2 linked regions of the Homo sapiens genome follow. The protein of the gene in region 1 purifies or fractionates together with the protein of each later gene. This does not show direct contact. Each region holds a gene or a part of one and is shown on either strand. Other genes may lie near its edges.

The links.
Region 2: the proteins of HERC5 (region 1) and CGAS purify together in Homo sapiens (affinity purification with western blotting; 2 studies listed by BioGRID, with this or other methods). This does not show direct contact.

The regions. Positions count from the first base shown.
Region 1 is NC_000004.12:88,501,895-88,506,735, forward strand, and holds the end of HERC5 (E3 ISG15--protein ligase HERC5), read left to right. Parts: intron 1-2,337; coding exon 2,338-2,521; intron 2,522-2,600; coding exon 2,601-2,703; intron 2,704-3,778; coding exon 3,779-3,984; 3' UTR 3,985-4,269; downstream 4,270-4,841.
Region 2 is NC_000006.12:73,428,244-73,435,539, forward strand, and holds part of CGAS (cyclic GMP-AMP synthase), read right to left. Parts: intron 569-7,296; coding exon 466-568; intron 1-465. UniProt on the Homo sapiens protein: Nucleotidyltransferase that catalyzes the formation of cyclic GMP-AMP (2',3'-cGAMP) from ATP and GTP and plays a key role in innate immunity.

The sequences.
Region 1 (4,841 bases):
TTCAAGCGATTCTCCTGCCTCAGCCTCCTGAGTAGCTGGGACTACAGGCGCCCGCCACCACGCCCAACTAATTTTTTGTATTTTTAGTAGAGACAGGGTTTCACCGTGTTAGCCAGGATGGTCTCCATCTCCTGACCTCATGATCCACCCACCTTGGCCTCCCAAAGTGCTGGGATTACAGGCGTGAGCCACTGCGCCCGGCCTATCTGTAGTATTTTTGACCGACATAGTGTATTTCAAGTTTTGGACTATTATGAATAATGCTCTTGTGAACATTCTTGTACATGTGTTTTGTTTATGTGCAGGCATTTCTGTTGGTATGTAACTGGGAGAAGTGCTTGGTGCCTTGTGGTTGCCCCTTGCTCCATGCAGGCAGAATCAATGCTCCTACCTGAAATTCATTTGGATATTGATATGGATGATGCCATATGTAAGCCAGAGAGTATGAAAATGTTTAGTACATAATGGGGCTTTTTGGGGAGAGCTGCACAGGCATCCAAGCTGATCTGTTTGGCTTAAGTGAAGAGAGAGGCAGGTGGCTTTAGTTTTTATGGTGGTTCCGTGGGGCCAGGGTCAGGGTTCTCATGCAACCCAGAGCATGCGTGGGGAAATTTAAGCCACGCAGCCATCAGTGGGTGCCCAGGGAGTGAGCCTGTGTTGTGCAGATTTGGAGGCGAAAGGGGAAAAAGGAGGAGTGGGACTTGAAAGCTGTTAGTAAGCAAACATAAAAAATGGAGGCACACTTTCATCAGTAGGGTACGACAGTTCTAATTGCTCTATATCCACTCTAATAGTATTACTAGTCTTTTTTAAATTAGCCATTCTGGTGGGTATATAGTAGTATTCCATTGTGGTTTTAATTTGCATTTCTCTGATTACTAATGTTAAGCACTTTATATGCTTATTGGCTGTTTGGATATCCTCTTTTCAGAAATAATTATTCCTCATCTTTAGTCTATTTTTCTGTTGCTTTTTTTTTTCTTGTCAGTTTATGAGAGTTCTAGATGCAAGTCTTTTGTTGGTTATATGTACTGCAGATATCTTCTTACATACTGTGGCTTGTCTTTTCACTTTTTAAATGTGTCTTTTGATTAACCAAAATTTGTAATTGTAATGTAGTCTACTTTATCAATATTTTCCTTAATGCATAGTGTTTTTCTGTTTTCTATTTTATGAATACTTCCCTATCCTAGGGCTATGAATATATTCCCCTGTATTTTCTTCTAGAAGCTTATCATTTTATTTCTCACATTTAGATCTATGATCCACTTTAATTGATTTTTTAGTAAGATGCAAGGTATGGATCAGGTTTTATTTTTTCAATTTTTGAAACTGATTATACTGAACCTATAGATCAATTTTTTGAAAAAATTGACATCTTAAAATAATGAGGCTTTAATCCATGAATACAGAATCTCCATTTGTTTAAATCGTCTTTTGTCATTCTTGAAAAAATGTTAGGTAGTTTTCTATGTAGAGATCTTGTTGCAATATTCTAAATAGGTTTCTTGGATCATTTATTGTATTTGAATCTTCTCTGTCCTTAAAAATTTTTTTGTCTGCTTTTCTGTTAGTTACTAGGAGAGGTATATTAGCATCTATACTATACATGTGGATATGAGTGTTTCTTTAAGTTTCGTTATTACTAAGCACATAACAGATTTTTGAATTGTTTTACCTTCCTGGTATATGACTCGGTTGTCATTAGTAAATGTACTTTTCTATCCTTGTCTTGTTTGTCTGATTTTAGTATAGTTACACCACATTCATTTTGGTTGATGTTTGCATAGTGTATCTTTTTCCCTTCTTTGACTTTAATCTGTGTTTTCACATTTAAGTTATATATGTTATAAGCAGCATATGATGGAGTTGTTATAAAAATTACATTAGGGCCAGGTGCGGTGGCTAACGTCTGTAATCCCAGCACTTTGGGAGGCCGAGGCAGGCAAATCACAAGGTCAGGAGTTTGAGAGCAGCCTGGCCAACATGGTAAAACCCCATCTCTACTAAAAATACAAAAAAATTAGCTGGGCATGGTGGCAGGCACGTGTAATCCCAGCTACTTGGGAGGCTAAGGCAGGAGAATCTCTTGAACCCAGGAGGTGGAGGTTGCAATAAGCTAAGATCGCACCACTGCATTCCAGCCCAGGTGACAGTGCGAGACTCCGTCTCAAAAAAAAAAAAAAATTACATTAGATAATCTCTAGTAACTATGACAGTCCATGGCACATGGTAGGTACTCAATAACTGTTAGGTATTCTAGCTTTTATTTTTAGCCCCTCACCATTTTGTTCAGGATATTGCAGTAAGTGGAAATAACATTTTGTTTTATTAAAGGAGAGACTATGTTTCTAAGTATATCAATTACATTTTCAACGACTCTGTAAAGGCGGTTTATGAAGAATTTCGGAGAGGATTTTATAAAATGTGCGACGAAGACATTATCAAATTATTCCACCCCGAAGAACTGAAGGATGTGATTGTTGGAAATACAGATTATGATTGGAAAACATTTGAAAAGGTACATCATCAAGTCTAAGTTGATTAAATTCAGTTTTCCTTCCTATTTCCTCAATAACTTTTTTTTGTATTTTCTCTAGAATGCACGTTATGAACCAGGATATAACAGTTCACATCCCACCATAGTGATGTTTTGGAAGGCTTTCCACAAATTGACTCTGGAAGAAAAGAAAAAATTCCTTGGTAAGTATTATATCAAGGAATAGATCTGTAATCGTATGTCTTTTTAATGGGATAAAAATTTCCTTTATGATAAGTACCATTTGCAACAGATCATAGTGTCAGAGCTACGCCTAGTCCAACTGAACATCCTCTGTGTCCCAACATCAAAAAACAAATGTTAATATCTATAAGCAATCTTTTCCCCTGTGATTTCATCCCTTCTTATTGCTTTTAAAGTTTTCGTTTCTTCATCCAAGCTAAATATCAAGCCTTCTTTCTGTAGCCCTGTCATCATTCACTTATTCAGCCTTTTTGGGATTAACTAAAATATTTTATTTGGCTAATTTTTACTGTTCCTATATTATTAATACTATATTTGCTATTACTGTACACAGCTATTTTATTTGTATCTTTAGGCTTAATGACTTTCTCATTTTCTATTTCCTTACTTTTGAGAAATATTTATCTTCTATTTTTATTTTTGTGGATAACATGTATGTTAGAAGATATTCAGACTTAATAGAAGCCCAACCTACCTTTCCAGTCTTAACTCCTAGAGGAAATTTTTGTCCCAACCAAATAATCCCATTGTCTGAACACTCCTGAGCTCACCTTGCACCTTCCCACCTCCAGGCCTTTCTGTGAAGTTCCTTCTCCTGCCTTGAACCTCACCTACCTCCTTGTTGCCTTTCTAAACCTTTCCATCCTTAAAGGTCCGGCATAATTCTGAACTCTTGGAAATCCCCTCAGTCATCCCAGCCTGGCTCTCTCTCCTTATTCTCAAGCATAGCATTGACTCAGGAGGCACTTAACTCCATGACACCTCTTCGGGCTGTCTTATACCTTACAGCTTTTCTCTTGCTATTATGTGTCTTTTTCTTCACAAGAATCTAATATTCCCAGTCAGACTTTAAGCTGCTTGAGGACAGTGACTATGTGTCAGACATTGTTCGAATACAATCCCCAATGCACTGTCAAATGTAGGACACTGCACATGGGCTCCAGTGAAGTTTTGTGAATAAATAGATTTTTTTCTCTGTAAAGAGATTTTGGTCTCCATGTAAAACAGATTGCCTAATTTTATTCTTCTTTTTAGTATTTCTTACAGGAACTGACAGACTACAAATGAAAGATTTAAATAATATGAAAATAACATTTTGCTGTCCTGAAAGTTGGAATGAAAGAGACCCTATAAGAGCACTGACATGTTTCAGTGTCCTCTTCCTCCCTAAATATTCTACAATGGAAACAGTTGAAGAAGCGCTTCAAGAAGCCATCAACAACAACAGAGGATTTGGCTGACCAGCTTGCTTGTCCAACAGCCTTATTTTGTTGTTGTTATCGTTGTTGTTGTTGTTGTTGTTGTTGTTTCTCTACTTTGTTTTGTTTTAGGCTTTTAGCAGCCTGAAGCCATGGTTTTTCATTTCTGTCTCTAGTGATAAGCAGGAAAGAGGGATGAAGAAGAGGGTTTACTGGCCGGTTAGAACCCGTGACTGTATTCTCTCCCTTGGATACCCCTATGCCTACATCATATTCCTTACCTCTTTTGGGAAATATTTTTCAAAAATAAAATAACCGAAAAATTAACATAAAAGTCTTATTCACTATTCAATGTGTTTACCAGCTCTTTTGGAATTGCTATCATTGCATGTAAGATATATCAATTATAATATAGATTAAGCTGTGTCTCTCACACAATGTTTGCATGACTTGGCCTGAAGGGATACTCTTTACCTTAGAAGTTTTTTTAAAAAACTTGTAATTATCTACCCAATATCTGTTCTCCCCTTCTTTCAGTACAGATTCCCTATATGGTAGGAGTGGCATTGTTCTCAGTCTTAAAATCATACATTTCCCAGCCTCTCTTCAAGGTAGGGACAGGTGGCAGTGGTGACAGTTATTGGGAGAAGCTTCTGAGGAAGCTTTTTTATTTAAATGCTGTTATGCTTTTAATGGAGTTAGGTACAAAATGCATCCAAGCAAAAGAATGTTGTACATACTCATTAACATAGTGATAAATGTAAATTACACTTTGATAATGTAAAATACAGTGTGTTAGGCCCCAAAAAGAAACTACAAAGTTAGCTGCAACTGAAGATACTGGAAAGACTCCGTAGGTTTTTTTTTTTCTTTTTTCTTTTTTTTGAGACAGTTTCACT
Region 2 (7,296 bases), on another chromosome or scaffold:
TAGTGTTGTTTTCAGTTTGGCCAATCAATCCCTAGCCGTCAACACAACCCAACTATCCCAAAGCAAGCCCAGTATCTAATAAGAGCGACCTTTTGGCCTCCTCCAATTATATGGCATTAATATCCATTACTTTTAAACAAGCAGAATACTAAGACCCATCGAATTGTCATGGCTAGTGCTCATACCCTCTCACTCTGTCCTACTGATACATCTATACAAAAACACATTCATCTGATCCAGGGTTCAGAACTACTATTCCCCGGCCTTGCCTTCTAACAACACCCTTTCCTTGGCCCTTTGGATCTAGCTTCTCTGGTTTCATACTCACACTCTCCCCAGCTCAACCCAATCCTGCCCTGCCCCCCAGACCCAACCCAGCTCAGCTCTTCAGGTCTGAGGTGTGGAGTCAACAAATAATTAAGCATACCATAGATAATCTGTCATTTAACAAAATAAGGCTGTTACCTGCAACATTTCTCTTCTTTGTTTTCACAGCACGTTTTAGATTTTCCATGATTGTTCAAAATTTCCTTTTCGATGTGAGAGAAGGATAGCCGCCATGTTTCTTCTTAATTTCAAAAAGAAAAACAAAAAAGCACTTTACCCAAAGCATCCATATCTAAACAATATTCAAGTGGTTTCCCTCATGAAAATATCCTGGGGCTGGGCATGGGGGCTCACGCCTGTAATCTCAGTACTTTGGGAGGCCGAGGAGGGTGGGTCACCTGAGGTCGGGAGTTCGAGACCAGCCTGACCAACATGGAGAAACCCATCTCTACCAAAAATACAAAAAAAAGTTATCCTGGCATGGTGGCACATGCCTGTAATCCCAGCTACTCGGGAGGCTGAGGAAGGAGAATCACTTGAACCTGGGAGGTGGAGGTTGCAGTGAGCCGAGATTGCACCATTGCACTCCAGCCTGGGCAACAAGAGCAAAACTCCATCAAAAAAAAAAAAAGAAAGAAAGAAAAAGAAAATATTCTGAAAAAATCTTAGGAGTGAATCAAAAGAAGTGAACAGATAAATAATTATGTATAAAAATAAGTACACTGAGACAAAAAATGGGCCTAACCGAAAAAAAAAGGAAGTCACAGTTTAATATAGTTAGCAATAGTAAGATGTATTACCTTTTATATATTGCTAAATTCCCTTTGTTAAATATTTTGTTTCAATAATAATTTGAATCAATTTATTCACTTTTTCTGTACCATCCTTACAGGTTTTATATTAATACAAAATGAATTGGGGACCATTTCCTTTATTCTTATTTATGAGAGTTTGTGTAAATATAGAATGATTTCACCTGGGCGCGGTGGCTCACGCCTGTAATCCCAGCACCTTGGGAGGCCAAGGTGGGCGGATCACAAGGTCGGGAGATCAAGACCATCCTGGCTAACACAGTGAAACCCTGCCTCTACCAAAAATACAAAAAATTAGCCGGGCGTGGTGGCGGGCGCCTGTAATCCCAGCTACTTGGGAGGCTGAGGCAGGAGAATGGCGCGAACCCGGGAGGTGGAGCTTGCAGTGAGCGGAGATCGCGCCACTGCACTCCAGCCTGGGCAACAGCACAAGACTCTGTCTCAAAAAAAAAAAATTTCTCCCCGAGTCTTACCATGGCTAGCTCTTTTATGCTCTGACCACCCTGTTACTTCGTGGTTTTATACTAGCAAAGTATAAGTAGTTTATAATCTGAATGATTTTTCAGAAAAATCAATCAATATAATCTGTCACATTAACAGAATAGAGGAGAAATACATGATTGTCTCAATAGATGAAGAAAATGAAGCTCTTAAAATCCTATAGTCGTTCATCATTAAAAAAACACCTCTTAGCAATCTAAGTCTAGATGGACACTTGATTCCATAAAAGGTAGATTTTAGAAAACTATAGCAACAATCATTATGTGAGGTAAAAAGTTGGAGAGAGAAATCAGAAAGAAGGCAAAACATCTGCTATCTCTATTTCTGTTCAACATGCACTGGGTGTCATAGCAAGCACAGTAAGGGAAGGAAAAACAGGGTTACACACTGGAAAGGGAGAAACAAAGCCATCATTATTCATAGGTGATGTAATTGCATATATAGGAAATACAAAAGAATCTACAATGCTGGGCATGGTGGTTCACGCCTGTAATCCCAGCACTTCAGGAGGCCGAGACAGGAGACCAGCCTGGCCAACATGGTGAAACACCATATCTACTAAAAATAGAAAGATTAGCTTAGCCAGTGTGGTGGCGTGTGCCTACACATACCACATGTATGTATGTATTTGTATATAGTCCCAGCTACTTGGGAGGCTGAGGCAGGAGAATCCCTTGAACCCGGAATGCCGAGGTTGCAGTGAGTCGAGATCACGCCACTGCACTCCAGCCTGGACAACAGAGCGAGGCTCCATCTCAAAAAAGAAAGAAAATGAAAAAAGAAAAAAAAAATTATGTAAATAAACTCACCAAATCAATTAAAAGAGTTACCAAGATTGTGGATACAAAAATCAAAGGTATTTTGATATATGGTAATAAACAAAAAATGAAATTTTGAGAAAGATGTTACTTACAATAGTATAAAAACTAGCAATTAGGCCAGGTGCAGTGGCTCATGCCTGTAATCCCAGCACCGTGGGAGGCCGAGGTGAGCAGATCACCTGAGATATGGGGTTCAAGAGCAGCCTGGCAAACATGGCGAAACTCCGTCGCTACTAAAAATACAAAAATTAGCCAGGCATTGTGGCACACAGTTGTAATCCCAGCTACTCAGGAGGCTGAGGCAGGGGAATCGCTTGAATTCAGGAGGCAGAGGTTGCAGTGAGCCAAGATCATGCCATTGCACTCCAGCCTGGATGACAGAGTGAGACTCAGTCTCAAAAAACAAAAACAAAAACAAAAAACAAACAAAAAAAAACACCCAACAGTTACCTTCTAGATCTAACTGCTAATGAAATATGGATGAGGCCAGGCACAGTGGCTCACTCCTGTAATCCCAGCACTTTGGGAGGCTGAGGCGGTGGATCACCTGAGGTCAGGAGTTCGAGACCAGCCGGACCAACATGGTGAAACCCCATTTCTACTAAAAATACAAACATTTAGCCGGGCATGGTGGCACAAGCCTGTAATCCCAGCTACTCTGGAGGCTAAGGCAGGAGAATCACTTAAACCTGGGAGGCGCAGGTTGCAGTGAGCCAAGATCGGGCGATTGCACTCCAGACTGGGCAACAAGAGCAAAACTCCCTCTCAAAAAAACAAAACAACAACAACAACAAAAAGAAATATGGATGAAAGCAGAACATGCTAAACGACACTTCTAGAATGCACTCTACAAACTCTCTTTGGGAAACTCTACAGGAAAAATAACCTGTTTCTTCAATGAGTAAATTGAAGTAAATTGAGTAAATTTTATTCAAGGAATAAAAAAGTTATGAAAGAGGAAGTTATGAGTTAAAAGAGATTTAACAGACATATTGGTCAGTCACAATGTATGAACCTTATTTGAATCCTGATCCAAACAGACTGATCCAAACATACAAAAAAAGTATGACACTTACAAGACAAGCGGAAATTTTAATACTGAATAGGTGTTTGATATTAGGGAATTATTACTTTTTTCTTTCATTTTTTGAGACAAGATCTCCCTCTATCACCCAGGCTGGAGTGCGTGAACACAGCTCACTGAAACCTCGACTTCCCAGCCTCAAGCAATCTTCTCATGTTAGCCGTTCCAATAGCGGGACCAGAAGCATACATCACCATGGCTGGCTAATTTTTGGATTTTTTTGTAGAGACGGGGTCTCTCCACCTTGCCCAGGCTGATCTCAAACTCCTGGGGTCCAGCAATCCTCCCACCTCCCAAAGTGCTGGAATTACAGCTGTGAGCCACTGTGCCCAGCTAATATAAGAAAATTATTATTTGTTTATACATTTATTTTTATTTATTTTTATTTTTTGAGATTGAGTCTCGCTCTGTTGCCCAGGCTGGAGTGCAGTGACACCATCTCAGCTCACTGCAACCTCTGCCTTCCAGGTTCAAGTGATTCTCCTGCCTCAGCCTCCTGAGTAGCTGGGATTACAGGCATGCGCCACCATGCCCGGCTAATTTTGTATTTTTAGTAGAGATGGGGTTTCACCATGTTGGCCAGGCTGGTCTCGCACTCCTGACCTCAGGTGACCCACCCGCCTTGGCCTCCCAAAGTGCTTGGATTACAGGTGTGAGCCACCGCTCCCAGTCATTGATTATTTTTTTAAGACAAGGTTTCACTTTGTCACCCAGGCTGGAGCGCAGTGACATGATCTCGGCTCACAGAAGCCTCAACCTCCTAGACTCAAGTGATTCTCCCACCTCAGCCCCCCAAATAGCTGGGACAACAGGTGCATATTACCACACCCAGCTAATTTATTTTGTATTTTTTGAAGAGACAGGGTTTTGTCACGTGGCCCAGGCTTGAACTCCTGGGCTCAAGTGATCCACCCACCTCAGCCTCCCAAAATGCTGGTATTACAAGCATGAGCCAACACTCCTGGCCCAGTCTCCTTTGGTACTGGTTTAAAATTTTCATAATAAAAAGTTTTGGCCAGGCGCGGTGGCTCACGCCTGTCATCCCAGTACTTTGGGAGGCCGAGGTGAGCAGATCACCTGAGGTCAGGAGTTTGAGAGCAGCCTGGACAACATGGTGAAACCCTATCTCTACTAAAAATACAAAAACTAGCCAGACACGGTGGTGGGCACCTGTAATCCCAGCTACTCAGGAGGCTGAGGCAGGAGAATCGCTTGAACCCAGGAGGTGGAGGGTGCAGTGAGCCGAGATCGCACCACTGCACTCCAGCCTGGGTGACAGAGCGAGACTCCATCTCAAAATAAATAAATAAATAAATAGTTTTAAAATAGATCAATTACCTATGAATAAATTAACAAAAGATATACAAAACCTCTGCAGAGAAAATGCTAATGAATGAAGCTGGGAAGTATTAGAGGAGATGTAAATAAGTGGATTGGGAGACTCAATATTGTTAACATATCAACTCTCTCCCATGTTTTTTTTTTTTAATACAGACAGTGTCTTGTTATGTTGCCCAGGCTGGAGTGCAGTGGCAAGATCATAGCTCACTGTAACCTCGAACTCCTGAGCTTAAGTGATTCTCTTGCGTAACTAAGACTACAAGCTACAAGTGCACACCACCACGCCTGGCTAATTTTTAAAAAGTTTTTATAGAGATGAAGACTCACAACTCTCTATAAAAACTTTTATAGAGAGTTTTTTTTTTTTAATTTTTTTTTGAGACGGAGTCTCTCTCTGTCACCAGGCTGGAGTGCAATGGCGTGATCTTGGCTCACTGCAACCTCTGCCTCCTGGGTTCAAGCGATTCTCCTGCCTCAGCCTCCCGAGTAGCTAGGACTACAGGCACGTGCCACCATGCCCAGCTAATTTTTGTATTTTTAGTAGAAATGGGGTCTTACCATGTTGGCCAGGATGGTCTCGATCTCTTGACCTCGTAATCCACTCACCTTGGCCTTCCAAAGTGCTGGGATTACAGGCGTGAGCCACCACGCCTGGCTAGAGTTTTTACACAGTGTTGTCCAAGATGGTCTTGAACCCCTCACCTAAAGCAACTCTCCTTCCTCAGCCTTCTGAAGTGCTGGAATTACAGGCATAAGTCATCATTCCTGGCCCCAAATTTATCTATAGATTCAACATTATCTCAATCAAAATTCCAAAAAGTATTTTGTGGAATCTGAAAAGCTGATTTCAAAATTTATATGAGAATGTAAAGGGTCAAGACTCTCTCAGACACCCTTGGAGAAAAACGAAGTGGTAGAACTTGCCCTAAAAGATATTGAGACTAATTATAAAGCTACATTATGTACAACAACATGGTACAAAGATAGACAAAGATTTTAATGGGACAGAATAAAGAGTTCAGGGATAGCTACACAATACGGTTGGCCCTCTGTATCTGAGGGTTTCACATCTGAGAATTCAACCAATCGTGAATTGAAACCCACAGATATGGAGGGCCAACTGTATTATATCATTTTATGTAAGGGATTTGAGCATCTGTGGACTTCGGTGTCTGCAGGGTACCCTGGAGCCAATCCTGAGGGTCAACTGTACATGACTGTAAAGAAAGGTGGCACGTACCGTTGATAAAATTTGATAAGGATGGCACTTTGCCTCTGTGACCTTCCTCCCCCAAACCAATAACTCTGATCTAATCATAAGAAACATAATAAAGAAATCTCAAGTAAAGGACATTCTACAAAATACCTAACTAGTACTCCTCAAAACTGTTAAAACCAAAAAACTGTCACAGTCAAGAGTAGCTTAAGGAGACATGACAACTAAATGCAATATGGTATCCTAAATGGGATCTTGGAACAGTAAAAGGACATTAAGAAAAACTAAGGAAATCTGGATAAAGTATATAATTTTTTTTTTTAATGGAGTCTCGCTGTGTCTCCTAGACTGGAGTGCAGTGGCATGATCTTGGCTCACTGCAACTCCACCCACCAAGTTCAAGTGATTCTCCTGTCTCGGCCTCCTGAGTAGCTGGGACTAAGTCACATGCCACCACGCCTGGCTAATTTTTGTATTTTTTTAGTAGAGACGGGGTTTTGCCATGTTGGCCAGGGTGGTTTCGAACTCTTGATTTCAGGTGATCTGCCCACCTCGGCCTCCCAAAGTGCTGGGATTACAGGCAAGACCCACTGTGCCCAGCAGATATAGCCCTTAGCTAACAATAATATATCAATATTGGTTTATTAATTATTAAATGTATTGTATTAATGTGAGATATTAATAATAGGAAAATGGGGGTGCTGCAGTGGCACGTGTCTGTAGTCCCAGTTACTTGATAAGGTGAGGTGGGAGGATCATTGAGCTCAGTTCAAGACCAGCATGGGCAACATAGTGAAACTCTGCCCCACTACCTCCCCCAGAAAAAACCCCAGGGGAATGGGTATGGGGTTATACGGGAACTCTCTGTACTATCTTCACAATTTTTCTGTAAATACAAAACTATGCTAAAACAAAAAGTTTATTTTTAAATAAACTACACTGAGATATCATTTCTTACTTTTTGAGATATCATTTTCTCACTGGCAAGAATTTCAATTGGCAAAAAGTTTAACAAGTCAGTGAGGTTGAGAGTGAAACAGGTACTCTGATACATTGCTGTGGAAAAGCAAATTGGAATGATGCCTATGGAGATCTGGGAAATGCCTAGCAATATTACATAACGATTTACTCTTTGACCAGCTGTAAAAATAGACTTTAAAAAGGAATGGGTGTTTTCTCTATATAGAGGTATGG